Homo sapiens: one gene and its partners. The protein of the gene in region 7 purifies or fractionates together with the protein of the main gene of each other region. This does not show direct contact. Each region holds a gene or a part of one and is shown on either strand. Other genes may lie near its edges. The genes, in order: GOT1, TOX4, CTH, TIFAB, FANCD2OS, PLXDC2 and SERPINB8.

Evidence for each region.
Region 1: the proteins of SERPINB8 (region 7) and GOT1 purify together in Homo sapiens (affinity purification with mass spectrometry; one large-scale study listed by BioGRID and IntAct). This does not show direct contact.
Region 2: the proteins of SERPINB8 (region 7) and TOX4 purify together in Homo sapiens (affinity purification with mass spectrometry; 2 studies listed by BioGRID and IntAct, with this or other methods). This does not show direct contact.
Region 3: the proteins of SERPINB8 (region 7) and CTH fractionate together in Homo sapiens (co-fractionation; one large-scale study listed by BioGRID). This does not show direct contact.
Region 4: the proteins of SERPINB8 (region 7) and TIFAB purify together in Homo sapiens (tandem affinity purification; one large-scale study listed by IntAct). This does not show direct contact.
Region 5: the proteins of SERPINB8 (region 7) and FANCD2OS purify together in Homo sapiens (co-immunoprecipitation; one large-scale study listed by IntAct). This does not show direct contact.
Region 6: the proteins of SERPINB8 (region 7) and PLXDC2 purify together in Homo sapiens (affinity purification with mass spectrometry; 2 studies listed by BioGRID and IntAct, with this or other methods). This does not show direct contact.

The regions. Positions count from the first base shown.
Region 1 is NC_000010.11:99,410,125-99,413,624, forward strand, and holds part of GOT1 (aspartate aminotransferase, cytoplasmic), read right to left. Parts: intron 1-3,500. UniProt on the Homo sapiens protein: Biosynthesis of L-glutamate from L-aspartate or L-cysteine. Important regulator of levels of glutamate, the major excitatory neurotransmitter of the vertebrate central nervous system. Acts as a scavenger of glutamate in brain neuroprotection.
Region 2 is NC_000014.9:21,487,195-21,490,694, reverse strand, and holds part of TOX4 (TOX high mobility group box family member 4), read right to left. Parts: intron 3,245-3,500; coding exon 3,002-3,244; intron 2,106-3,001; coding exon 1,845-2,105; intron 1,523-1,844; coding exon 1,292-1,522; intron 1-1,291. UniProt on the Homo sapiens protein: Transcription factor that modulates cell fate reprogramming from the somatic state to the pluripotent and neuronal fate. In liver, controls the expression of hormone-regulated gluconeogenic genes such as G6PC1 and PCK1.
Region 3 is NC_000001.11:70,414,268-70,417,767, reverse strand, and holds part of CTH (cystathionine gamma-lyase), read right to left. Parts: intron 1,813-3,500; coding exon 1,731-1,812; intron 1-1,730. UniProt on the Homo sapiens protein: Catalyzes the last step in the trans-sulfuration pathway from L-methionine to L-cysteine in a pyridoxal-5'-phosphate (PLP)-dependent manner, which consists on cleaving the L,L-cystathionine molecule into L-cysteine, ammonia and 2-oxobutanoate.
Region 4 is NC_000005.10:135,449,552-135,453,632, forward strand, and holds the start of TIFAB (TRAF-interacting protein with FHA domain-containing protein B), read right to left. Parts: upstream 2,801-4,081; 5' UTR 2,658-2,800; intron 1,172-2,657; exon of another isoform or gene 949-1,171; intron 399-948; 5' UTR 389-398; coding exon 1-388. UniProt on the Homo sapiens protein: Inhibits TIFA-mediated TRAF6 activation possibly by inducing a conformational change in TIFA.
Region 5 is NC_000003.12:10,105,456-10,109,530, forward strand, and holds the start of FANCD2OS (FANCD2 opposite strand protein), read right to left. Parts: upstream 2,801-4,075; 5' UTR 2,560-2,800; intron 1,083-2,559; exon of another isoform or gene 1,005-1,082; coding exon of another isoform or gene 986-1,004; intron 1-985.
Region 6 is NC_000010.11:20,214,932-20,218,431, forward strand, and holds part of PLXDC2 (plexin domain-containing protein 2 isoform 1 precursor), read left to right. Parts: intron 1-2,494; coding exon 2,495-2,645; intron 2,646-3,500. UniProt on the Homo sapiens protein: May play a role in tumor angiogenesis.
Region 7 is NC_000018.10:63,987,081-63,989,874, reverse strand, and holds the end of SERPINB8 (serpin B8), read right to left. Parts: coding exon 2,597-2,794; 3' UTR 501-2,596; downstream 1-500. UniProt on the Homo sapiens protein: Has an important role in epithelial desmosome-mediated cell-cell adhesion.

The DNA of each region.
Region 1 (3,500 bases), on a different chromosome or scaffold from region 7:
CATCCCTTGCTATTACTTTAAAAGTTTTGCCCCCACATTGTGGTTTACCTGAATTCTTTATGCAAATTGCTACCAAGATGATATAACACAAATGTGCATTTATTTTTTATGGATTTGTCATCCAGCTAAGTTGAATGTCAGTTTCATACATGACTTCACATTGCAGATACCTAAGCCACTCTAGAGTGCTAATACTTCCTAAGCAAATGAGCAAGACCTCCCTTGAACATGGTTTTAACTTCTGGAAACACGATAGATGCATAGATACCAGTGGAAACATTCCCAGGCATAATTTTTCATTTCCTGTTCTCAACTTTTCACTCCACCCTTTCTCTCCCACTACAGAAAGCAAATTCATTTTTTTAAAAATCAGTAGAATACATTAAAAATGTGCTTAGAAGAGATAAACCCACTCCACATTAACTAATCCTTGACATTCATGACATATATGACACTTGAAATATCAAATTCTCAAGAAGTTATCACTCCCTAAAAATCTATTAAATACTGGATGGCTTCAGTGAAACACAAGTTGCTCTAAACATCAGCAACTAACAGAAACAAGTTTTTGGTGAATCAATAATATAGCAATGTGGTCATTCTGTGAACTGATTTTTGGCAAATTGTCCTACAGCCTAAGAATGTCCTGTACTTGTTATAAAGGAAAATCATAACATCAAAGGAAGTAAGTACAGACTTCTCAAGGAGCCAGGCAACTGGACCTGGGTAAACAAGAGTATCCAGAACAAGGGAAATCCAGGAAGACTTGGTATGAAGCTAGATAGAGCAGGCCTCTGTTGGACATGTCAGCATAAGATTGCTGGATTCTAGAACCCTTGTCTGAGATAACAATTTGCCGATACTATGACTTCACCATGAGGAATAGGAGAGCAACCAGGAGCTGCCTGTGGCCAGAGCCATGCTGCATTCATCTGGGTGCCCCCAGCATCTCTCACGGCATCTGGCACATGGTACTACATAAGCATGTGCTGAACTAGATGAAGAAAGAAGACAGTGGTGAAAAGATCTGAGCCACAGCAGAAGCCCCAAGTCGCCTAGAGGCAATCAAAGCGAGAGTGGGATGTCATGATGTGACAATGAGTTATGACCCATGAGCCCTCCTTCCTACAATGCTCAGTAATCTCAAAGCTGAAACAGCACTATGCCAGAGATGAAAAATCGACATTTCTGTCTGGATCCTAAGATCTGAAAGTGGAAAAGTAATACAAGGCAGTGAGGAGTCTAGAAAATAGGTCTCCTCAAAATGGGTAAAGGATCTGGAAATGTTGAATCTGGAGAAGAAAAATCTAAGGGAAGAAACAATTACTGTTGGTTTACTTGTTCACTCATTCTTTCATTTATGTCTCGTCTTTAAGTTTTGGCTCAAATGTCATTTCTATTTCTATCATAACCACCCTAGTTAAAACTGTATCCACTCCTAGAATTCCTAACATGCCACCTCCTGCTCCATTTTTATAGCATTTATCATCTTTAGTATACTACATCATTTTCTTACTGATATAGTCAAAAAGATTACATTTAGAGTCTGTTCCTCTCCCCGAAACTGAATGCAAGGGCAGGGGATTCTGTGTGTTTGAGTCACTGCTGTGCTCCAGCATCTAGAACAGTGCCTGGCTCTAGTAGTGGGCATCTGATGACTAAAGGAATGAATGAATCCAAACCTTTGGAACCTGAGGTACCCGGATAGGAGCCAAATGCTGAAAATCTGCAAGGTAAATAAGCAATGATCACTCTCCTGGGGAAAGTTAGGGCCTTGTGGGAGATGAAGACTTATAAAATTATCCATTATAGTAAGAACAGTTAAGTACTGTTATTCCCAAGCTGTGAACAAAGTCCTGTGATAACTCAGAGAGCTTAAACAACAAGCTCTGCCTAAAATACCTAAGGATTCAGTGTGGAAGTGACCCTTGATCAGCTCTTGAAGGACTTAGAGGTGGGGACTGGACAGCTAGAGCAATAAGGGAGGGCATTCCAAATGGAGAGAAGGGCCAGGCAAAGGTTCTTAGTCTTGACAGGGCCCAGTAGGTCTAGAGAACAGCAAGACTCTTAGAATGTCAGGACCTCTAGTGGAGTGAGGGGAAATCAGCAACTGTAAGAACAGGATGAAGACTGTCACCTGTCACCTACTTTCACTGCATGCCAAGCTCAAAGTCTGGATTTTACCCTACAGGCAATGGGGGAGCTATGGGCGGTGGGGGTGGGGAGTGGGAACAGGTGACATGAGTAGCTTGTTTTGCCAAGGAAGGTCATCCTAGCTGCAGCATGCAGAATGTACTAAAACAGGGAAGAGACTAGAGGCAGGAAGGTAAATTAAGAGGCTATTAGTGAACTAAGACAGCAGCCTGGGAATGGTGAGGCCTTCCAAGCAGAAGAAAGGCTCAGAGCTCGAACAAAAGGCAGCAGAAACCTCTGCAGACTTAAATGTCCCTGTCTGACAGCTTTGAAGAGAGTAGTGGTTCTCTCAGCACGGAGTTTCAGATCTAAGAACGGACAGCCTGCCTCCTCAAGTGGGTCCCTGACCCCTGAGTAGCCTAACTGGGAGGCACCCCCCAGTAGGGGCAGACTGATACCTCACATGGCCGGGTACCCCTCTGAGACGAAACTTCCAGAGGAACGATCAGGCAGCAACATTTGCTGTTCACCAATATTCCCCGTTCTGCAGCCTCCGCTGCTGATACCCAGGCAAACAAGGTCTGGAGTGGACCGCCAGCAAACTCCAACAGATCTGCAGCTGAGGGTCCTGACTGTTAAAAGGATAACTAACAAACAGAAAGGACATCCACACCAAAAACCCATCTGTACATCATCAGAGACCAAAGGTAGATAAAACCACAAAGATGGGGAAAAAACAGAGCAGAAAAACTGAAAATTCTAAAAATCAGAGTGCCTCTCCTCCTACAAAGGAATGCAGCTCCTCACCAGCAACGGAACAAAGCTGGATGGAGAATGACTTTGACGAGTTGAGAGAAGAAGGCTTCAGAAGATCAAACTTCTCTGAGCTAAAGGAGGAAGTTCGAACCCATCGCAAAGAAGTTAAAAACCTTGAAAAAAGATTAGACGAATGGCTAACTAGAATAACCAATGCAGAGAAGTACTTAAAGGACCTGATGGAGCTGAAAACCATGGCACGAGAACTACATGACGAATGCACAAGCTTCAGTAGCCGATTCGATCAACTGGAAGAAAGGGTATCAGTGATGGAAGATCAAATGAATGAAATGAAGTGAGAAGAGAAGTTTAGAGAAAAAAGAATAAAAAGAAACGAACAAAGCCTCCAAGAAATATGCGACTATGTGAAAAGACCAAATCTACATCTGATTGGTGTACCTGAAAGTGACGGGGAGAATGGAACCAAGTTGGAAAACACTCTGCAGGATATTATCCAGGAGAAGTTCCCCAACCTAGCAAGGCAGGCCAACATTCAAATTCAGGAAATACAGAGAATGCCATGAAGATACTCCTCAAAAACAGCAACTCCA
Region 2 (3,500 bases), on a different chromosome or scaffold from region 7:
GAAGGACACTACATGAGGAATTATAGGAGACATTATTAGTGGAAAGTACATGGGAAGAGTTAAAGAACCTGGATTGTGTCTCAACTTTACCACTTAAATGTTATATGACCTTAACTGGGCAGTGGGCTCCAGTTTCCACCTTAAAAGCGGGAAATGGTAGCTATTTTTGAGAGTTATTGTAAAGATGCAGTACTTCTGTAACAATTATTATTATTTTTTGAGATGGAGTTTCACTCTTGTTGCCCAGGCTGGAGTGCAATGGCATGATCTCGGCTCACCGCAACCTCTGCCTCCCGGGTTCAAGCAATTCTCCTGCCTCAGCCGCCTGAGTAGCTGGGATTTGAGGCATGCCACCACACCCGGCTAATTTTTTTGTATTTTTAGTAGAGTCGGGGTTTCAATGTCAGCCAGGATGGTGTTGATCTCCTGACTTCGTAATCCGCCTGCCTCGGCTTCCCAAAGTGCTGGGATTAACAGGCGTGAGCCACCGCGCCCGGCCTATAACAATTATTATTTATTTATTTGAGCCGGGGTCTTGCTCTGTCACCCAGGCTGGAGTGCAGTGACACAAACATGGCTCACTGCAGCCTTTATATCCTGAACTCAAGCAATCCTCCCGCCTCAGCCTCCACAGCTGGGACCAAAGGCACATGCCACCACACCCAGCTAATTTTCTGTGAGACGGGGGTCTCCCTATGTTGCCCAGGATGGTCTCGAACTCATGGGCTCAAGCAATCCTCCTGCCCTGGCCTCCCAAAGTGCTGGGATTAAAAGCATGAGCCACCACACTCAGCCTATTAATAATTTTTAAATAGGCCGGGCGCAGTGGCTCATGCCTGTAATCCCAGCACTTTGGGAGGCCGAGGCGGGTGGATCACGAGGTCAGGAGATCGAGACCATCCTGGCTGACATGGTGAAACGCCGTCTCTACTAAAAATACAAAAACAAAATTAGCCCAGTGTGGTGGAAGCGCCTGCAGTCCCAGCTACTCGGGAGGCTGAAGCAGGAGAATGGCGTGAACCCAGGAGGCGGAGCTTGCAGTGAGCTGAGATCACGGCACTGCACTCCAGCCTGGGTGACAGAGCGAGACTCTGTCTCAAAAAAAAAAAATTTAAATAGGTTTTCTGGAGTGAGTGTATGGCTGCAACTTCGAAGACAAGGGATGATATTTAAGTGTCATTAACAAACAGCTGATATTAGATAAGGACATGTAAGAAAAAAGAAAACCTCAATTTTTATCTCTTTAAAAACTTCTGGAACATTCACTACTAGTTCCTCAATATTTGCTCACCTGTTTTTGCTCCTCTCCAAGACTATCCCACATGGAGGCCACAATTTTTGAAACCTCACCAAAAGTGGCATTAGGATTCTGTCCCTTGATGGCAGCCTGTGTATCACGAAAGAATAAAGCATATGCTGAAACTGGTTTCTGAGGTTCATTAGGATCTTTCTTTTTTCTCTTCTTTGGGGCCTTCTGCTTTTTCCCTGCTTCCACCACGACTGTCTTCTGGCTGGGAAGTTGCTGTAGGAGAGAAAAAAGAGAGAATTACACAATGGACAATGACAAGTATTATGTCTGGAAACTAGCCACATGTATGGAATTTTCAGAAATGCTAAAAATCATAGAAATAGCATTAAAAGACATTAGTCAAATATGGAGAACCAATAAGAATAGGGATTGAGAGGAGAATTATAAACTGGAAATTGGGAGGTGGAACCCCATACCCAGAAAACAGCAGAGGAGATGGCACGGCAAGGGTAAAGAATACTGATTAGGCTCTGTATCCCAAAAATTTTATCCCAGACTATCACAGCAGAATTGATTTTGACAGGGAATGCCTCACCCTCCGGAAATCCTCAACACCATCCTCGTGAAGTGAACTAGTAGGTGAAGGGGTGGTTGAAAGACGATCTTCAGGTGACTGGGCAGGTGGCAGGATGGTGCCACCCCCTAGGCTCAAACCCAGCTGGGAACTCAGTTCTGACTGATCAATGGTGGTCAACTGGCTATGCCCCATCAAGCCAGATGTCATGTCTGTCATTGGTACATCAATTGTAACAGGTGGGTTGGCACTATACTGAGTTCCTATAGAGTGGTCCAAGTCCTGAGAGAAGCAGAAGGACTAATTAAACACTAAATATAAAAAAAACCACTTTTCCCCCCTAAATTTAAGACAGCTTATAAATTCCCTGCCTACCCAAATTGTATCATTTAAAATACAAAACATAAAATAGTCTTCAAAAATGAAAATAAAAAAATAAGCTTTTTAAAAAAGTACAGAAATTAATGAATTTACTTCTTTGCACTCAAAAGAAGAACTAAAAATAATCAGAGAAGTCGCACTGTTGGACAAGTCAAAGAGCTATCAACTTATTCAGTAATATATAGGTAGTGACAACACATTGAGTAAAGAAAAACTTCCTATCTGTACTCTCCCAAAATAATAGCTTTTAAAATTGTAATACATAGGCAATCAGCATAAATAAGGCCAATATTAAAGTCTGGCATCAAATATAGAGTATGAAGATGTGCTTACTGGTTCGATGTGCTGGAAGCCCAATATACTGATTTATATTACATACTAATCCACAATACTATATTTGGCTCAGACTTTTTTTTTTTTTTTAAGCTCTGTTCTGCTGGCTGCTCAACGTGATTCAGGCCATTTTTGAATAAATCCCTCCGTGTGCCAGCTATCACATTCAAATTTGAATCCTAGGATGTGAAGGCCATAATAAAAGCAGAAAACACTTTTTCCCAAAAACCACAATAAATAATTTTCAAACCAGACATTGTACAATTTTAAATTATTTTTCAAGTAAAATCTACCTACATGGTAAATTTCATTTATTCAGGTGAAATTAAGTCTTTGTTGGTGAGCCTTTAGCCACAAGAAGAGAAACAAGTAATACCCAAGTGTAGCAGGGAATAGAGTAACTTTGTCTCCCCTAATGCCATGCCCATTAGCTGGGGTAAGCCTGACAATGTCTTGCCCCTTACCATGGTCAAGCCCCCACTCAGGAGCCCCCCGCCCTGCTCCATCAAGCCATGGGTCATGCCCACAGGCATGTCCAATGTCTGGACCCCATACTGGGCTGAAAAACTGCCATCCTGTGAAGAGGAAGGGTCTGCCAGGTCATCAAAGTGGCCAACCACATCTGAGACAGCCAATGAGGGATCAGAATCCAAGGAGATAGGTGGGATTTCAAATTCCTCATCACCCAAGCTTGGTGTATGGAATGTCTGTAGGGGAAAAAAGGGGGAAAAGAATTAGTGAAAAGAGGAGAAATGGCATACTACTAAGTGAAGAACATAATGGGGTACTAGAGATTCTCAGGATGCATTTTTTCTGCTTAGGATCCTATTTTATAATCAATTTCTTAGAACCTATTATTTTTACCAATCTCTCTTCTGATACCCTTGGTCATTTGGTACATTCAAGGCTGCTAACATCAGTCACAATTTTCAATTCTTTTATCTCTTTTCTACCATTACCGTC
Region 3 (3,500 bases), on a different chromosome or scaffold from region 7:
TAAGATATCTTTAAAATAAAAAATATATAATGTGGACAGATACTTTTGTGTTAAGTCAATTTTGCCTTGGTAATAATATTTCTCTGAAACACTTCAAGAAAATAATTCTTTACAAATATCTGAGATAAAAGGCCTATTGCCAGTTAAACTACAGTTTAAAAATAGCAAACTAAAGGAATTTCAGGGCAGGCGTGGTGGCTAATGCCTATAATCCCAGCACTTTGGGAGCCCAAGGCAGGTGGATCATTTGAGGTCAAGATTTCGTGACCAGCCTGGCCAACAGGGTGAAACTCTGTGTTTACTAAAAATACAAAAATTAGCCAGGCATGGTGGCACATGCCTGTAATCCCAGCTACGAGGGAGACTGAGGCAGGAGAATCGCTTGAACCCAGGAGGTGGAGGTTGCAGTGAGCCAAGATTGCACCACTGCACTCCAGCTTGGGTGACAGAGGGAGACTCCATATCAAAAAAAAAAGAAAGAAAAGAGAAATTTCAAACATAAAGAATAGAGCAAAGATATGATTCATACGTTAATTATATGAATATGCAATTCAGTAAATATTTTAACAAAACTCGCAATCAGACCTGAGATTTGTCTGATAAGTGTAATCACAATGAATACACAAGACTCTCTTCATTAAAAAAAAAAGTTTAGGGAGTTAATCTCTAATCTCTGACAGCACATTATCAGGAGTTATTGACCACTGAAAATAACTTTAGTGCTATTCTCAGGCACAAATTATTAGGTGAATAAACCAGAGGATAAGCAAGTTTAGGCCAAGTGTGGTGGCTCACATCTATAATCCCAGCACTTTGGGAGGCCGAGGTGGGCAGATCACTTGAGCCCAAGAGTTCCAGACCAGCCTGGCCAAAATAGCCCCATCTCTACTAAAAATACAAAAAAAAGGCTGGGCGTGGTGGCCCACTCCTGTAATCCCAGCACTTTGGGAGTCCAAGGCGGGAGATCACGAGGTCAGGAGATCGAGACCAGCCTGGCCAACATGGTGAAACCCCATCTCTACTAAAAATACAAAAAATTAGCTGGGCGTGGTGGCAGGCACCTGTAATCCCAGCTACTTGGGAGGCTGAAGGAGAAGAATTGCTTGAATCCAGGAGGCGGAGGTTGCAGTGAGCCGAGATCCTGCCATTGCACTCCAGCCTGAGCGACAAGAGCAAGACTCTGTCTCAAAAAAAAAAAAAAAAAAAAATTAGCAGGGTGTGGTGGTGCACACCTGCAATCCCAGCCACTCAGGAGGCTGAGGCAGGAGAATCGCTTGAATCCTGGAGGAGGAGGTTGCAATGAGCAGAGATTGTGCCACTGCACTCCAGCCTGAGCAACAGAATGAGAGACCCTGTCTCAAAAAAAGATTTTATATTCTAATAGGTGGTGTTATTAAATTTAATTTCCATTTATTTATTTATACTGACAGTTTCAGATGAAGATTGTTTTCACATGAATACTACATGATAAATGTAGTATTAATAAATGTAGTATTCGTGTGAATTTTTTCCTTTATTCATTTGTCCTCTATTCATACGTATTTTTACCTGATGATTACACATATGCATATTATACCAACTGAGGGACCTTGGGCAAAGAATTCAAAGGCAGTAGAACAGGAATTTTGAACTAGCAAATCTGTTTCTTTTCAGTTCCACATTCTGTGCCTCTATGGTTTTCTCTATACATTTAAAAATAGATTCTAGACTGTGAAATGGAAATTACTTACAGTACTTAGCCCCATCCAGTGCTGCCACTGCTTTTTCAAGGCAATTCCTAGTGGGATTTCCAGAACGGCTATATTCAAAACCCTGAAAAAAACAAGTTCGAGTTCATCCTAAGAGATTTCAGTTTATTATCAGAGTCCTAACATAGAGAACTATAGTTTCACCCTACCATAATTAGTTTCTATTCTTTAGTCATGATATGTCTTGCTTTAATACAGAAGCAGAACAGTGCTGTGGCTATAGTCAAGATGCTCTGAAGTCAAACAAACTCTATGTGAATTCTGTATCTGCCACTTATGAGCTGCATGACACTAGGTAAGTTACTTCACATTTCCAAGAGTCAATCTCAATATCTGTAAAATGGGAATAAAATACAGATATCTGGTTCATAAAATTGTTGTGAAGATAAAATGAGATAATGCACAAATTCACTACATGTTTCCTGGCACATGCTAATCACTAAATAAATGACAGTTTTTATTATTAGTATGTTTATTATGTTAGACTCACCTTTTTTCATTAATCTGGAAACATTAGGAAAAGGGACTTGCATGAGCCAACAGAATAAACCTAATTCTAACCTGTATTTCATTTCCTAAGAAATAAATGATTAAGTGATACAAGTTTTTTTTTTTAAGGATAGGACCTCACTCTGTTGCCCAGGCTAGAGTACGGTGGGGCAATCATAGCTCACTGCAGCCTCAAACTCCTGGGCTTAAGCAATCCTCCGATCTCAGCCTCCTGAGTAGCTAAGACTACAGGTGCATGTCACCATGCCTAACAAATATTTTAATTTTATTTTTTGTAGAGGCAGTCTAGCTATGTTGCCCAGGCTGGTCTTGAACTCCTGACCTCAAGCAATCTTCCCACATTGGTCTCCCAAAGTGCTGAGATTACAGGAGTGAGCCATCTGTCAGGCTGATTCAAGTTCTATTTAGCATACAACAGGAAGTTATGATCACATCCTACCAATGCTCAACATTCATTCACATCTTGGCTCTACAAAAGTGGCTCAAAGCATAGGGAGCAATTCCTGGCAAAACAGCTCCACACAATACTTTTTAAAAATTTGCATTCCTATAATCCCAGCTACTCGGGAGGCTGAGGCAGGAGAATTGCTTGAGCCCAGGATGCGGAGGTTGCAGTGAGCCGAGATAGTGCCACTGCACTCCAGGCTGGCCAACAGAGCGAGACTCTGTCTCGGGAAAAAAAAAAATTGCATTATTCTCCTTTTACATATATGGCACCCTGCTAGCTATATTCATCCAGTCATTCTACTAATCCTTATGACTGGCTTTGAGGAAAGTGAAGCCAAATGCAATAGTACCTAGGGAGTGTCAAAACCGGATTGTGAACCAAGGATTCGAACATTAATTAGAAGTCCTATAATTTTCTCCCTCTGCTTCACATAACATAACAAAACACAACCACTCTTTCACCTTTGTTTCTGATTCAGAAGCTCCCAGTATTAACAACAATAACTTCTAAAAGTTTTGTTGCTATGTGCCCTTGTTTATGACAAGTTGAGCAGACTTTTTTTTTTTTGAAAGGGAGTCTCGCTCTGTTGCCAGGCTGGAGTGCAGTGGCGCAACCTCCACCTCCCGGGTTCAAGCGATTCTCCTGCCTCAGCTTCCAGAGTAGCTGGGACTACAGGCACGCCACCACACACAGCTAATTTTTGTACTTTTTTAGTAGAGATGGGGTTTCACTACGTTGGGGAGGTTGGTCTTCATCTCCTGACCTCATGACCCACCCGCCTCAGCCTCCGAAAG
Region 4 (4,081 bases), on a different chromosome or scaffold from region 7:
GGAAATAGCAGACAAAAGCCTCCAGGGATGTGCCTTCTTCTACGCGAACCAGCATCTGGATGCCTGAGAAGGAGACCCTGTTGACGGTGCTCAGGGGGACCTGCTCCAGGTACCTCAGCGTCAGCCCATTGACCCACACACAGCCCTTGCGGCTCAGGGCCTTGAGGCAGAAGGCCAGCAGGGCACTGCCTTTCTCCAGGTAGGGCTCCAGGGACAGGTGACGGCGGGAGAGGCGAGGGAGCTGCAGCTGGAGGTGGGCGTCCTGCCCCCGTCCGAGAAGCAGAGGGCTGGTATCATGCTGCAGCCGTGGTGGGACATTGGCAAAGGCAGATGGGCCCAGCGTGGGATGGTACAGGCTCACTCGCAGGACGGTGAGGGGCTTCTCCATGGAAGAAGTCCTGGGAAGTTGGAACATGGACACACAGGCTCAGCTTCAGTCAGAGACCTCTGTGGCTCCCTGAGCCCAGACACACTTGCCCACCTCAGGGGCCCTGTGCCTGTTCATACAATCACTCTGCCCAAGCCAGGATGGAGCCAAGGCTGGAATTGGTGTGGAAGGTCATGAGCTTAGTCTCTCTCATACTCTGAATAGAACATGCCACCCACTCTGTCTGACTTTTGGATTTCTGTAGTATAGATATATCTGTCCTTGTCTATGCAAGGGATAAGGCATGCTGGCTTGCAGGGTGGGGATTTGGTAATCTTTTGGTTATTTGGAGACAACTTGGCCCTGCTTCTTGGAAAGGAAAGGGTAGACAGACTGGCTACATTTTCCTTGTATCTGACAGTCACACAACAAACCCTTGCTGAATCCTCCTTTGAGCCAAGCAGGGAACCAGCTGCTGGGGAGAAGCAGATTCAACAACGAACCGAGCCCTGACTCTTGGGAGCACCCACTGGTGGAGGAGAGAGGTGTTTCTAGCATCAGGATGTGTGGAAGGACACAGAAGGAGGATGCTTAGCCTAGTCCTGGCCACCAGAAAGGCTGCCTAGAAACCCTGGTGAAGAGTAAACAGCTAGCACATTCCGAGTGGTTACTATGGGCACTTGCTGGAAGGCCACTCACAATGGCCAGCTTTGTTCCTGCATGGGTTTGAGGAACACAAACTCTGCTATGTCCACCAGCACCCTGTGGCCCAGGACCTGCCATCATCTTCAACAGGAACCAAGGGTTGAGTGGATTTGAATAACTAATTATACATTCTCTGGGTACCAGGCTTTTGCTCACATTATTTCTCTCCTAAGAATGCATCTTCCATCCCAAACTCTGTGTCCAAATACTGCCCACGGTTCAAGGCCCTGTTCAAGTGTTACCTCTCCTGTGAAGCTCCCTTCCCTGGGGAAGGTGACCTTTCGCTGCCTTCTGACTCCCACAACAGGGGGAATCCCCCAGGACACCTGGCCAACCTTACTCTCCATTCATTCCATCTTTGCATTTCATGCCCAAGTTCTGTGGGCCCTTGTCCTGTCTTCCCTGAGTTCCTCTCTTCCTGCCCCTGAGGCCTCCCAAGGGCTGGGTATGGTCTGGGCTGTGGTTCTTGCTGCCCCATGTTCCACTGCCCCATACAAATAGGGCCTGGCCACCATAAATGTCCAGGGGCACATTTGCCGAGTGGCTAAATGAGAAGCCCACACACACACATGGTGAAATCACCCAGAGAGACCACAAATGGGATCATGTCTCAAAGGCTGTGGGACAGCGAGCCTGTTGCAGGTGGCTTGAACTCAATGTCCCTCCAGGTCTTGAACCTGCTGCCCCTCCTGCCTTTTAGATGCAGTAGGTTAATGGCTGAGACCTTTTAGTCTGATAGTGAGGGCACCCTTTCACTATCAGAGGCCTGAGGGCACCCCCTTTCCCCTAAGGCACAGACACACATATGCCTCTACCCACACCCCATCTGGCCATAGTCTGCCGAAAGCCTTTCTTTTTTTTCTTTTTTTTTTTTTTCTGAGATGGAGTCTCACACTGTCACCCAGGCTGGAGTATAGCGGCATGATCTTGGCTCATGGTAGCCTCCGTCTTCCAGGTTCAAGGGATTCTCCTGCCTCAGCCTCCCCAGTAGCTGGGATTACAGGTGCCCGCCACCATGCCCAGCTAATTTTTGTATTTTCAGTAGAGACGGGGTTTCGCCATGTTGGCCAGGCTGGTCTCGAACTCCTGACTTTAGGTGATCCGCCCGCCCCGACCTTCCAAAGTGCTGGGATTACAGGCGTAAGCCACCACGCCCAGCCAGAAAGCCTTTTCTCGAGGTATGCGTTACAGGCTGAGCCCAGGACAGGTGGGCTGGGCAACCCATGCTGTCAGGCCTGGCTGGAAACTCAAGAGTTCACTCCCAGAAACTAATATCACGGCACAGAGACCCTGAAAGAATCCCTCAGGAAGAAAGATTCACAGTTGCTGTGTGGCCTTACTCTCTGCTCCAACCAGAGCTAACAGAAATCTCCCACTAAAGAGGAGCCCATCCACGACAGGCTGTCCCGTGTCTTTTGGATCCCAGGTGTTCTGGGGAAACAGAAACCCAGCCCTACAAATCCAGCCTTTGGGACGGGGCAGGAGGAAGACACTCCAGAATGTGTGTCTCAGGGGAGCCCTCCTCCCAGCCCCACCAGGCCCTCCCTTCTCCCCATGGGTTCAAGCCCCTCTGGCTTCAACTTACCTTATTGCCGGGGCACATCTGGCTCTAGTCCTGCAGCTGTGAGCTCTTGAGAGGGAGTAGGCTGGTTTGGGTAGGGCTGGGAGGGCTCCTATGGCTGCAGTTCAGGAACGTGGCAGAACATACTTCAGTTTTGTTGCATTCTTCCTTTTTCCCTTTAGGAAAGAAAATAGAAGTGTAATTTTTCATTGCAGAAGTGCAATTCCACTGCTGAGAGTTTGAGAAACCCCAGCGTGGGGCCCCTTCTGAGACAGATGGCCTGCCTTCCTGGGTTTCAGTTCTGCCAGCCTCTCCTACCCCACCCCCAGGGACCTTAGGACCTGCACCCAGGGTATCTGCAAAGTTCCTCTCCACCTGCCAGTAGGATGGGGTCAAAGCAGCCCAGGCATGTTAGAAAAGAAGAGCTTTTTGGGACAGATGGCTACGGGACAGGAGAGTCCCCTGAGTGTGGGAGAATGAGGAGAGCGTTCTGGCTGGATAGAGGTTGGCCAAGGAAACTGTAGGCAACATGGCACTTCCCTGAGGGTCTCAGGAGAGGGCAGGGCCTGGGGACGGGGAGGATGGAGAGGGCAGTAAATGGCCACTCATAGAACATGATCTCTCCTGCAGAACAGTGAGAAGGTGGTCTCTCATGCCCACTCCCCATCGCCCGAGCTCTGCCTATTTGCATGCAGTTTGGAAGGGGTGAAGATGGTCGCTTGTCCAGCACTGCGGGCTCTGGCTGCCCTGGAATGTGAAGGTGCTAACCCTTCACGTAGCCCAGCATTTCATAGTCCACCAGTGTGTTCAAGTCACCTGCGTTATCTCCTAGGAGTTTTATAGTTCTATACGTACATTTTAATTTTTCTGACATGTGTAAGGTTTGTGTCTAGATTTTTTTTTTTTTTGGCTTATAGGTGTTCAGTTGTCTCAGCACCATTTTCCGAAATGACCATGTTTTTTTTCCTTCAGTGTTTTCTCTTTACTCCTTTGTCAAAGATTGGTTGACTGTATTCATGTGGGTTTATTTCTGGGCTCTCTACTTTGTATCATTGATCTATTTGTCTATTTTTTCACCAATACCTTACTGTCTTGATTGCTGCAGCTCTGTAGTAAGTCTTGAAGTTGGGTACTGCCAGTCCTTCAATTCTGTTCTTCTCTTTCAATTTTGTCTTGGCTCTTTTGAGTTGTCTGTCTATATAAATGTTAGAATCAGTTTGTTAATAGCCACAAAATAACTCGCTGGGATTTTGACGAGACTTCATCAAATCTATCAATAAAGGAGGGAAGAACTGACATCCTGACAGTATTGAATCTTCCTATTCATGGACATGGGATATCTCTCTATTTGTTCAGTTCTTTGATTTCCTTCATCATAGTTTCATGGGTTTCCTCATATAGATCTTGTATATGTTTTGTTAGATTTATACAGAAATATTTCTTTTTTG
Region 5 (4,075 bases), on a different chromosome or scaffold from region 7:
TAAAAATATTTGTGGCTGGACACAGTGGCTCATGCCTATAATCCCAGCACTTTGGGAGGCTGAGGCGGGCGGATCACTTGAGGTCAGAGTTCCAGAACAGCCTGGCCAACATGGTGAAACCCTGTCTCTACTAAAAATACAAAAATTAGCCGGGCGTGGTGGCGCATGCCTGTAGTCCCAGCTCTGTGGGGAGGCTGAGGTGTGAGAATTGCTTTAACCCAGGAGGCGGAGGTTGCAGTGAGTCAAGATCGCACCACTGCACTCCAGCCTGGGTGAAAGAGCAAGACTCCATCTAAAAAAAAAAAAAAAAAAAAAATTATATATATATATATATATATATATATATATATATATATATATATATATTTTGAGGTTCGCGATGTATGAACCCTGTAGTAGCAGCTTCAGCATCATTTGGAAACTTGCAGAAATGCACATTTTTGGGCCCCACCTCAGACCAACAGGAACAAACTCCACGTGGGACCCAGCAATCTGCATTTATATAAGCCCTCTTGCATTGTCTATTTTGAGAATTTCTTATGCTATTCCTTTCAAACAACTCTAGCTTTCACTATTCATTACTGAGATCATCTCCTGGCCCCAAAGGCCTCTGCATTTTCTAGCACAAGGGAGCAACTTGCAGACCCCTGGGTTATTTATATACCACCTCAGAGGAGCTACACCAGGCTGGGAGAAAACACTTCCAAAGTCCAGTCAAAAAACTGTTAAAGATTTTTGTTTTTCTAGGTGTGGGTGTGGTTTTAAATTTGTTTTTCTGATTTGTTTGTTTTCCATCTATGGAAGACCTACTGGTTCCATAAGACCTTAATTTTCTTTTTCCTTTGAAGATTAAAAAGGGCTGTGAGGATATTGCTAACTGAAAATTTATGCAAGTAAAATTAGAATTTTCCATCATTCTCCTTCAACATTGCCAGTATATAAGAAGTTTTACTAAATTCAGAAGCTAATTTTTTTTAGCACGTACCTATTTTGTTAGTGGGCATAGCAGGTCCCTTTTCTTTCTAGCCAAGTGTATTTCTCTGCCCCTTCTTCTCCCACAGAAGATAGCAGCAGATCTCATCCTATCCAGTAATTGCCCCAGAAATACTGTGAAAATTTTGACACCTTCACCGCCGTTTGTGAGATAGAAAAGTTCGTTTTAAAAAAAGAACTGTTGGCCGGGCACAGTGGCTCACACCTGTAATCCCAGCACTTTGGGAGGCCGAGGTGGGTGGATCACTTGAGGTCAGGAGTTCAAGACCAGCCTGGCCAACAGGGTGAAACCCCGTCTCTACTAAAAATACAAAAATTAGCCAGGCGTGGTGGTGGGTGCCTGTAATCCCGGGTACTCAGGAGGCCGAAGCAGGAGAATCACTTGAATGGAGGCTGCGGTGAGCCGGGATCAAGCCATTGAACTCCAGCTTGGGTGACAGAGGGAGACTCCGTCTCAAAAAAGAAAAAAACGTTGGTGACATTTCAGACCAGAAGACCTGCTCCTGACAATGGTTAGTATAGGGGGATTTGTTGATTTTCTCCAACTAGTATGTTTCTCATGATCTATGTAGGCTCTTTGCAAAGTACTAAGTGTTCAAATATCTGGGCTGCCTTAGAATGAGAAAGGGACACCCAAGGGACAGTTATCTATTCCAAACACCCTGTGAAAGGCTTCTGGTGCTTGATATCTTGACCTTCAGAGCACATATCCAAGAGAGGGACTACTGTGGTACACCACCATGGCAAGGTGGGCGGAGGGTATGAATGCTGTCAAGCATATTTTTAATCCCAGAATATGGGATTTAAAAAAGTATTTAATCCCAGGATCCTTTTCTTTCTTTCTTTCTTTTTTTTTTGAGACAGAGCCTTGCTCTGTCACTCAGTCTGGAGTGCAGTGGCGCGATCTCCGCTCACTGCAAGCTCCGCCTCCCGGGTTCACGCCATTCTCCTGCCTCAGCCTCCCGTAGCTGGGACTACAGGCGCCTGCCACCACGCCCGGCTAATTTTTTTGTATTTTCAGTAGAGACAGGGTTTCACCGTGTTAGCCAGGATGGTCTCGATCTCCTGACCTCGTGATCCGCCCGTCTCGGCCTCCCAAAGTGCTGGGATTACAGGCGTGAGCCACCGGGCCCGGGCCCCCCGGATCCTTTTCTTGCCACATCTTCTAAGAGGAAGTAGAGGTAGAAGTAAAAGTCTTTGTCAAATGTCCAGCCTAGGTCGCGGCGCGGTGGCTCAGGCCTGCAATCACAGCACTTTGGGAGGCCAAGGCGGGCCAATCACTTGAGGTCAGGAGTCAGCCTAAATATTCGGCAGAACCAACATGGGACGAGAGCGCTTCTAAACCTAGGTCCCTGCACCTCTTCGCACAAAGTTTAAAGATGGTTCACCCCATCCCCACCGCCCAGAAGTCACTGTCAACCACTCCAGAAGGGCTTGAACCTACAAAGTCTGCTCAAGCTGCTCAATAGCTCCCAGATATGGAACACCTGATTCTCCTGGCCAAAAAGGTTTCCCCTTCACACCCCACTTCCCATTCCAAGGAACCCCATCTCTTGATTTCCCCACCTGGGAAACAGGGCGTTAGCGCCAAAGTGCAGCTGAGGTCCTGAACTGTAAACGGAGATCCCGAGGGTCTGGAGCTGCCGAGAGTGCGAGAGGCTCCCACTCCCCGCCGGAAGAAGGGGCTTGGGCCTCCTGGGTCCCTATCCGGGGGCGGGGACCAGAAGGTTCTGGCTGAGGCGGACGATGCGGTGGGAACCTGGGCCCAGTCCCACCATCCGGGCCCGGGGCTCACCTGCTGAACTCTGAGGGTCTCACGCTCCAAAGTGGCGGCCGCTGTTCGTGGCGCCTGGCAACCGCCTTTGTGACCCAGGACGGCAGGGCAGCCCGAGCCGCGGCGGGGATGGGGGCTCGAGGCGCCCTACTGGGAGGCGTCAGGGCCACACTCCCCGCCCCCACCTCATTGGAATGCCTTGTCCAGGACTTGGCCTTCAGGAGGGCTGGTCCGAATCCTGTCCCCTCCATTGTCCTCCTCCCTACCGTGCCACACCTGTGTACCTGTGTGCCTTTGATCAAGCCACAGAGGACAGGCGACCCCTACTTCAATGGCCATGGTCAGAGGCCTGCATAAAAGTCCCAGGACCTGTAGTTAGTGTTAAAAGTTAGTCCCAACTCATCACACTCTGCTCAGTGGGTGCTCAGGCAGAGTGACCCAGAGCTCTGTCAGGTTTTGTTGCTCTATTTGAATGATCCCAGTGGCAAAGAAAGAGAATTAATAAATGTTCACCTGTCAAGAGCAGGAGGAAACGCACGTCTTTCCTTGATTTCCTGACAGAAAACCTTTCTCAGCCTTGCGTTAAACCTGAGAGTACCTGTAATCCCAGCTATCTAGGTGGCTGAGATGGGTAGACTGCTTGAGCCCAGGAGTTCAAGACCAGTCTGGGCAACGTAGTGAGATTCCCAGCTCAAAAAGAAAACAAAAAAATCTCAAAAAGAATGATTTTGTCTCATTCTTATAATGCAGAAATACACTTTCGCCATATTAGTGAAGGAGTGATTTGACAACTTTGTAATCATCACTTAAAATAATGACCCTGGATGGCTGAGGGAAGGGAGGAGTCTACCCAGCTGATGTCTGTATTCCCAGTACCTGGCTATTGCCATGTCTGGCAGTGTGCAGTATTTGTGGGAGGAAGTAACTAATGGCCTACTTGGCCTTCCCTTGTACACCCAGAATTGCCCTTGCATTTTACAAACTATAGAACACACACCACAAATAAGACTTGTCACCTTTGTTCTGGTTTTTTGGGTAAAGCTGATGGAGAAAGACTGAGGGTCTGAGAATAGAGTCAGGCAAGATCCTGATTTAGAAGACACACACCCACTGTGTGTACATGTGCACCTTTTGGAAGAAGAGGTAAGTGGAGAAGAGTCTGGAGGGCATGTCGGGTCAGAACATGAAGAGAGAGGCACAGAATAGTGAGACTTGGAAGAGACACAAATGATTTTGAATTACAAAACTTTTTTCCCCAGTTAGTTCATTTTTATTTCCCTCTTTTTTTTTCTTTCTTTTTTTGAGACG
Region 6 (3,500 bases), on a different chromosome or scaffold from region 7:
CTGGTCAATAGATGACTTTTTGGGCCTGAAATCCAAAAGAGGAATGTGGACTGGAAATATAGATTTATGAATAATCAACATAAAGATGTTCATTGCAGTCATGGGTGTAGAAGAGATTGCAAAAGATAATGCATAGAATGAAGTGACAGAGCAAGAATGATCCATAAGAACCACCCCAACACTTAAGGAATTGACATAAATAAAAGGAAATTGAGATGGAGTTGTGAGGGAGGTGTCAGAACATTGAGGAGAGGGTGTGTCACAGAAACCAAGACAGGGGAGTGGACATCTGCACCATAGGCTGATGAGGTGTCAGTAGGACACCATGGAAGATGTTGGATATTTAGCTAAGGAGATATTTAGAAACATTGGTACGAGAAATTTCAACTCAGTTGGATTAGGTAAGAGCAAGATTGTCATAAAAGGGAAAGCTGGGAGTCTGAGAAGACCAAGGCAGACTGATCTCTCTGGAAATATGACTGCGTATGAATGGAGGGAAAGCAGTATAATGTCAGGATGCATTGGGGAGAAGAGGGAGGCAGTCCCTCTTCTGGGACTGCCTCCCTTTGCAAACTGGAATTTGGGTTTGCAAAATAAGATTAGGCATGCTTGTGTACCTTTAAGTGTTGTTGATAAGAAGCCAGCAGAGAATTAGGGGTGGCAAATATTGTAGAGAAAGGACTATGATCACCTAAGCAAATTCACAATACCTGTGAAGGTGGGCTGAGTTGAGCTAGGACATAGGTAGAAATAGGTTGAAAGGATGGCTATAAGGAAAGGTCCCCATCCATTATCACAGAAGGAAAGAATAGGTCAGCCCAGAGTCAAGTAAGTATGCTGATTCACTAAGAAATTTAAAGAAATCTTGCTGATCATGCCTATTTATCAAGGAAATGGAAGGTGAACCCAAGGAGTAAAACCGGGAGAATCATGATGGGATTGCAGTTTTAGGTAAAGTGGAGAGAGCTTGAAATTCATACTGAGCATAATGGGAGAGGTGATTAGCAAGACACAGCAATGCTGCCAAGTGGTATGCACGGCCCTGCTAAGGATGCAGGAGATGTTTGTGGAGCCCCCATGGCGGGTCTGTGTGATTATTCTCCAGCTGTGCCTGGCTTTGGAGCAGGCAGGGAAAAGGCAGATCTTTTCTTTAAAGGTGTTGTAGAAAAAAAAACTAAAAAAAAAAAAAAATAAAAAAATAGAGCAAGATGCTTGAAGCTACTGAAATGAGTGGTTGAAGTAATGGGGGAAAAAGAAACTTAAAAACAAAATCATTTTCTTAGGCTTTCTAAGTAGTCAAAGAATAAGAAGAATTGGAGTTCGCAGGTACAGGGATAGATGGAAAAAGGATAACTGAGCTTATGATTTCAGATCTAAAACATTTTCCACTACAGATATAGTCCAGGGTGTGGGGATGACAACTAAAGTGGTATCTGAAAGGAAATAATTAGATTAATGGGGCTCAGAGGTGCAGGAACTGGAATTTGGGGAATTAAATGAGACCCTAGTATGTTTAGACTTGAAGTGGAGAATAAACCTGTTTCATATCCTATTAATGAAAAGGAGGCTGTCTCAGGAAGTCTGCATTAACAAGGGGAAAGGCACCTAGCGCTCCACTAATGATGAGAGAAGTTTAAGAATGATATTTATTTAACAATAATTTTAAAATGTGGGATGAGAACCACTCATGTCCAGAATAGTTATTTTCTACTCAAGGCCCACCTGAGAGAGGGAGTCCACTGCGGCACAAAAGGTGGATAGAAACACCAACTTCTAAGCTATAAAAGTTTGGATGTTGGAGGTTGTTACCAGTGAAGGTTGTAGGATTTGTTTTCACAAATTAAAAATAAAAAATTCACTATGTCTCATTTCCTGATGTTTTCAATATAGCTCTGCTAAGGAGGAAAATAGGCTGAGTGATTACAAGAGTTCTGTTCAATCCTTTGCTTATGTGGTTTTGAATATTTCATAAAGGAAAACAAAATTTTAGACATTCATTCAACTTGTGACAGATGATTTTTGAAACAATGAAGTAGTATGGGGAAGTTAGCAAATATTTCGGATTTAGCATTGTCAGTTTGATACGAAAGGAATGCACTTTTTCTCCACAAACCTGAGTATGTTTTAAACCTTATCTTTATGCACCTGTTTTTCTTCTAGTATAAATTTTCCCTTTTGACAGTGTGTCTTTTATAAATATACCAATGTAAAATTTAGGGCAAGGTAAACAGTAATATGAAAGCTTAACAGCAGTAAATGATGAAACCTAAATATCTAAAAAGGGAAATGCCTTGTTCCATCCATCTTTTTCTCTTTCCTATTTTATAAACTTCATAAATTAGCAAAATCATTAATATAGTCTTGTACAAAAGTAATTTATTCCTTGTCTTGATATGAGAGGCTTTTGTGCTTTACAGCCCAGCTTCTTTGATGTAAGTTCTAAAAATAGATTTGTGATCACTCCATTTGTTTTCCTTTTCTTTTCTCTTACTAGTCAAAAGAGAAGATGTGTGAGAATACAGAACCAGTGGAAACTTCTTCTCGAACCACCACAACCGTAGGAGCGACAACCACCCAGTTCAGGGTCCTAACTACCACCAGAAGAGCAGTGACTTCTCAGTTTCCCACCAGCCTCCCTACAGAAGGTACCCAAGAGATAGTTTGCTTTTTTTTTTTTTTTTTTTTTTTTTTTTCCCTGAAGGAAGGAAAAATCACTGTGTTGACATGTACTGGAATAGCTCCTACTCTCTAGGTCTCTCTAAAGTTATTCTTTGGCAAACTGGATTTCTAAGGGATTTCCAAAGGGGAAAAAGACAAAATTATTATGAACTAAAAGTAAATGCTGGGATTCTTTTAATGCACTGTGCCTTTTTTTAAGACATAGCTTTTACCATTGATTCTGGCTTCTTGTCCTCTCCTTCCTAGAAAAGAAATACAGATTTCTTCCTGTGTGGCTAAATTTTGTACTAAGCAAATCCAACTTCACAATCACAGGTTAGAAAGGCAAAATGCATATAAAATGTCCGTTGATTCTGGATTCTGAACAATAAATAATTCTATTAATATATAATTCTAATGTTTTCCAGAATGCAGTCAATAAAATATATTGGTCTATAACCTATACAGAAACACTGTATGTGTCATAGAAATTGTCCTTGAAAACAACTATTTCCTCTTCTAAGGTAGGCAGAAATACTAGAGAGTGTTAATGCTTGGGCACAGCTCAGGAGGAAGAAAGTGTATTACCCAACATACGATAATTTTCTATTCTGAATGATACCACCAGGAGGGAGAGGGCAGAAACATAAGACTGGCCACGAATCAGGTTTGAGGGGGATAAATGGGTCTTACTTGTTTATTGTTATAAGCCTCACTTTCTTTGGCTTGAATAAAAAATTAAATATGGAACTTTTAATTGGAATTTAATTTGATATTATAAGGTGAACTGGAATAAAGTGGGGTGGAAAGCAGCTGCTAAGTGCATTTTACTGCTTTTAAAA
Region 7 (2,794 bases):
GCCTCCCGGGTTCACGCCATTCTCCTGCCTCAGCCTCCCGAGTAGCTGGGACTACAGGCGCCCACCACTACGCCCAGCTAATTTTTTGTATTTTTAGTAGAGACGGGGTTTCACCGTTTTAGCCGGGATGGTCTCGATCTCCTTACCTCGTGATCCGCCCGCCTCGGCCTCCCAAAGTGCTGGGATTACAGGCGTGAGCCACCGCGCCCGGCCTAAGCACATTTTTTTAAATGCTGAACATAATTAGGCATTAGGGAAATGCAACCAAAAGCCGGTACACGCTGAAAGTAACAACACTGGTAGTACCAAGTATTGGTGAGAAGAGAGAAAAACCAGAACTCTCCTAGGCTTTACTGGGAATGTTAAATGATACAACCACTTTCAAAGGCAATTTGGCAGATCCTTAAAAAGTTAAACTTACACCTTCCATATGACCCAGCCATTCTACTTCTATGTATCTATATACAAAAGAAATGAAGACATATGTCCATACAAAGATGTATATATATAAATATTCATAAAAACTTTATTTTCAATAGCAAAAATCTTGGTAACAACGTAAATGTTCATCAACAGGTAAATTTGTTCATCAACAAATCATGGTATACCTATACAAAAAAATGTTACTTACCAATAAAAGGGATGAACTATTGATACATACAATAACATAAATGAATCTCAAAATAATTGTACTGAGTGACAGGAGTCATACTACAAAGCATAGATGATGTATGGTTCCATGTATGTAAATTTCTTTAAAAATGCAAATTAATCTATAGTGACAGAAAGAAGATTGGTAGTTGCCTGAGCAGATCAGTGGTTGGGATGGGACGGGGAGAGGGAGAAGGAAGAGTGAGAAATTACAAAGATGCAAGAAGGAATTTGGGAGTATGATAGATAGGTTCATTATCTTGAATATAGCGATGGTTTGTTTCATGGAAAATGTGTCAGAACTTATTGTAGAGGTTAAATATGTGAAATGTATTCTGTGTCAATTAAAGTGTTCTTCAAATTAGAGGTGGAAGTGAGAACAAAACTCACAGATGTATACCTTTCAGTCCTGTGGATTAATTTTGCCCAAACCTGCTTTGGAAAACATGATCCCTAAATGAATGTGGCCTAACAGATATATCCTGGCTTGGTCAAATTTAAGTAAGAGCTGTAATATGAATGGTTCATGTAACTGTTAACTGTCAGTCAAAAACAGAGTCAGGATTAACCACTGTTCAGTCCAACTCATTAAAGAAATAATAAAGCAGGCAGCAGTCAGTGGTGGTATAAACAGTGACATAAGTGAGAGTACAAACCAGTGTAACTTTCTAGGGACCAATTTGGAAGAAGTCTCAAAATGTGCTCAACTTTTATCTCAACAGTACTATTGTTAGGAATTTTAAAAAATATATTAAGGATGTGAGCAAATATTTAGTATATCCAAAACAGCATAATATATATTATTAGCAATCTATTATTTGTTAATAGAAATAATTTTAATTACTCAAACTGTCTAAAATTAGATTCAATTATAGAAATCCAGCCACACAGTGGAATACTATGCACATCAAATTGATGACCTGGAAAGATCTTAAGGGAGGTTTTTCATAAGGGAAGAAATAAGCTACTGAAGGATATGATTAACTTGTAGTAAAATGCTTATAAATTTCTATTTGCATACACATAATAGGGAAGGATGTATATCACTATTAACAGCAGTGATTGCTGTGTGTTGGAATTGTGGGTGACTTCAATTTTTTTGGAGACTTTGCTGTAGTTTCCAAATTGCTGCCACAACGCAATTTTATTTTTAGGCAGAAAAAAATTAATGTATATGGAGGTTCTTTCTTAACTAAGGGGTGTGCTTGAGCTGTGTCTGAGCACATATGATTAGTTAGAGGACTCAGTGGTGTGTTGCGTAAGTTCCTTTGGTATTTTGTGTGTTTCAGAGGGAAAAGGAATGGAAAGAACAGCATAGCAAGCTTCAGATATTTGCCTCCTAGCTCAGTCCTAAAGTGCATTGCTGAGTCCCTGAACTTGTATCTCAGGCTTATGGAAAGATGAGAAGGAGCTGTCTTCATTACAAACTGTGTGAGACAGGGGGCATGCAGGGCTGTCTATGTGACAGTGACAGAAGCAGATCACTATTTCAGCTGCACATGAGACACAGGGTGGCTGCAGCTTTACTCTATAGGGTTTGCCCTTGGCTTTGTGTGCAGTGTCACCTGGGCACTAGTCCCCTGTTCAGCCTGGCAGTGGTGGTGGGCAGAGCCGGGCGGATGGAAGAGGGCTGGCTCCTGAAGCCCTGAGATGCTCCATAAGATCCCCTGAAACAATGGGCACAGACTTAGGTGAAGGCAGAGGCAATGGCAGGCACCCCAAACACTCCAAAACCAGCATAGCCTTCCCAGGCCCAAATTTCATGCATCTGCGGCCTCAGTTATTCTCAATGGCTCTGGAACTTTCAGCAAAGACTTTCACACACTATCCAGTGCACACGCTTTATTTTGGCATTCAAGCCACTGCACCAACTAGGTCACAGGGAATGTTAATTAAGGCAAGATAGGTAGAAGGAAAGGAGGGTATGTACAGCAATTGCTCCTCTTTACGGAGAAGAGAACCTGCCACAGAACAAGATGCAGTTGGTTTTGTGGTGCCTGATGAAGAAAAGAAAAGGGTGGTCTGCACAGAATCTTGGCTCCATTCTGCTGCACCGGGAATTCCTGACCACAGCAGTGGCTGCGGCAGCCTCTGTGCCTTCCTCATTGACCTCCACGAAGCACTTGTGGGCAACCTTGGACAG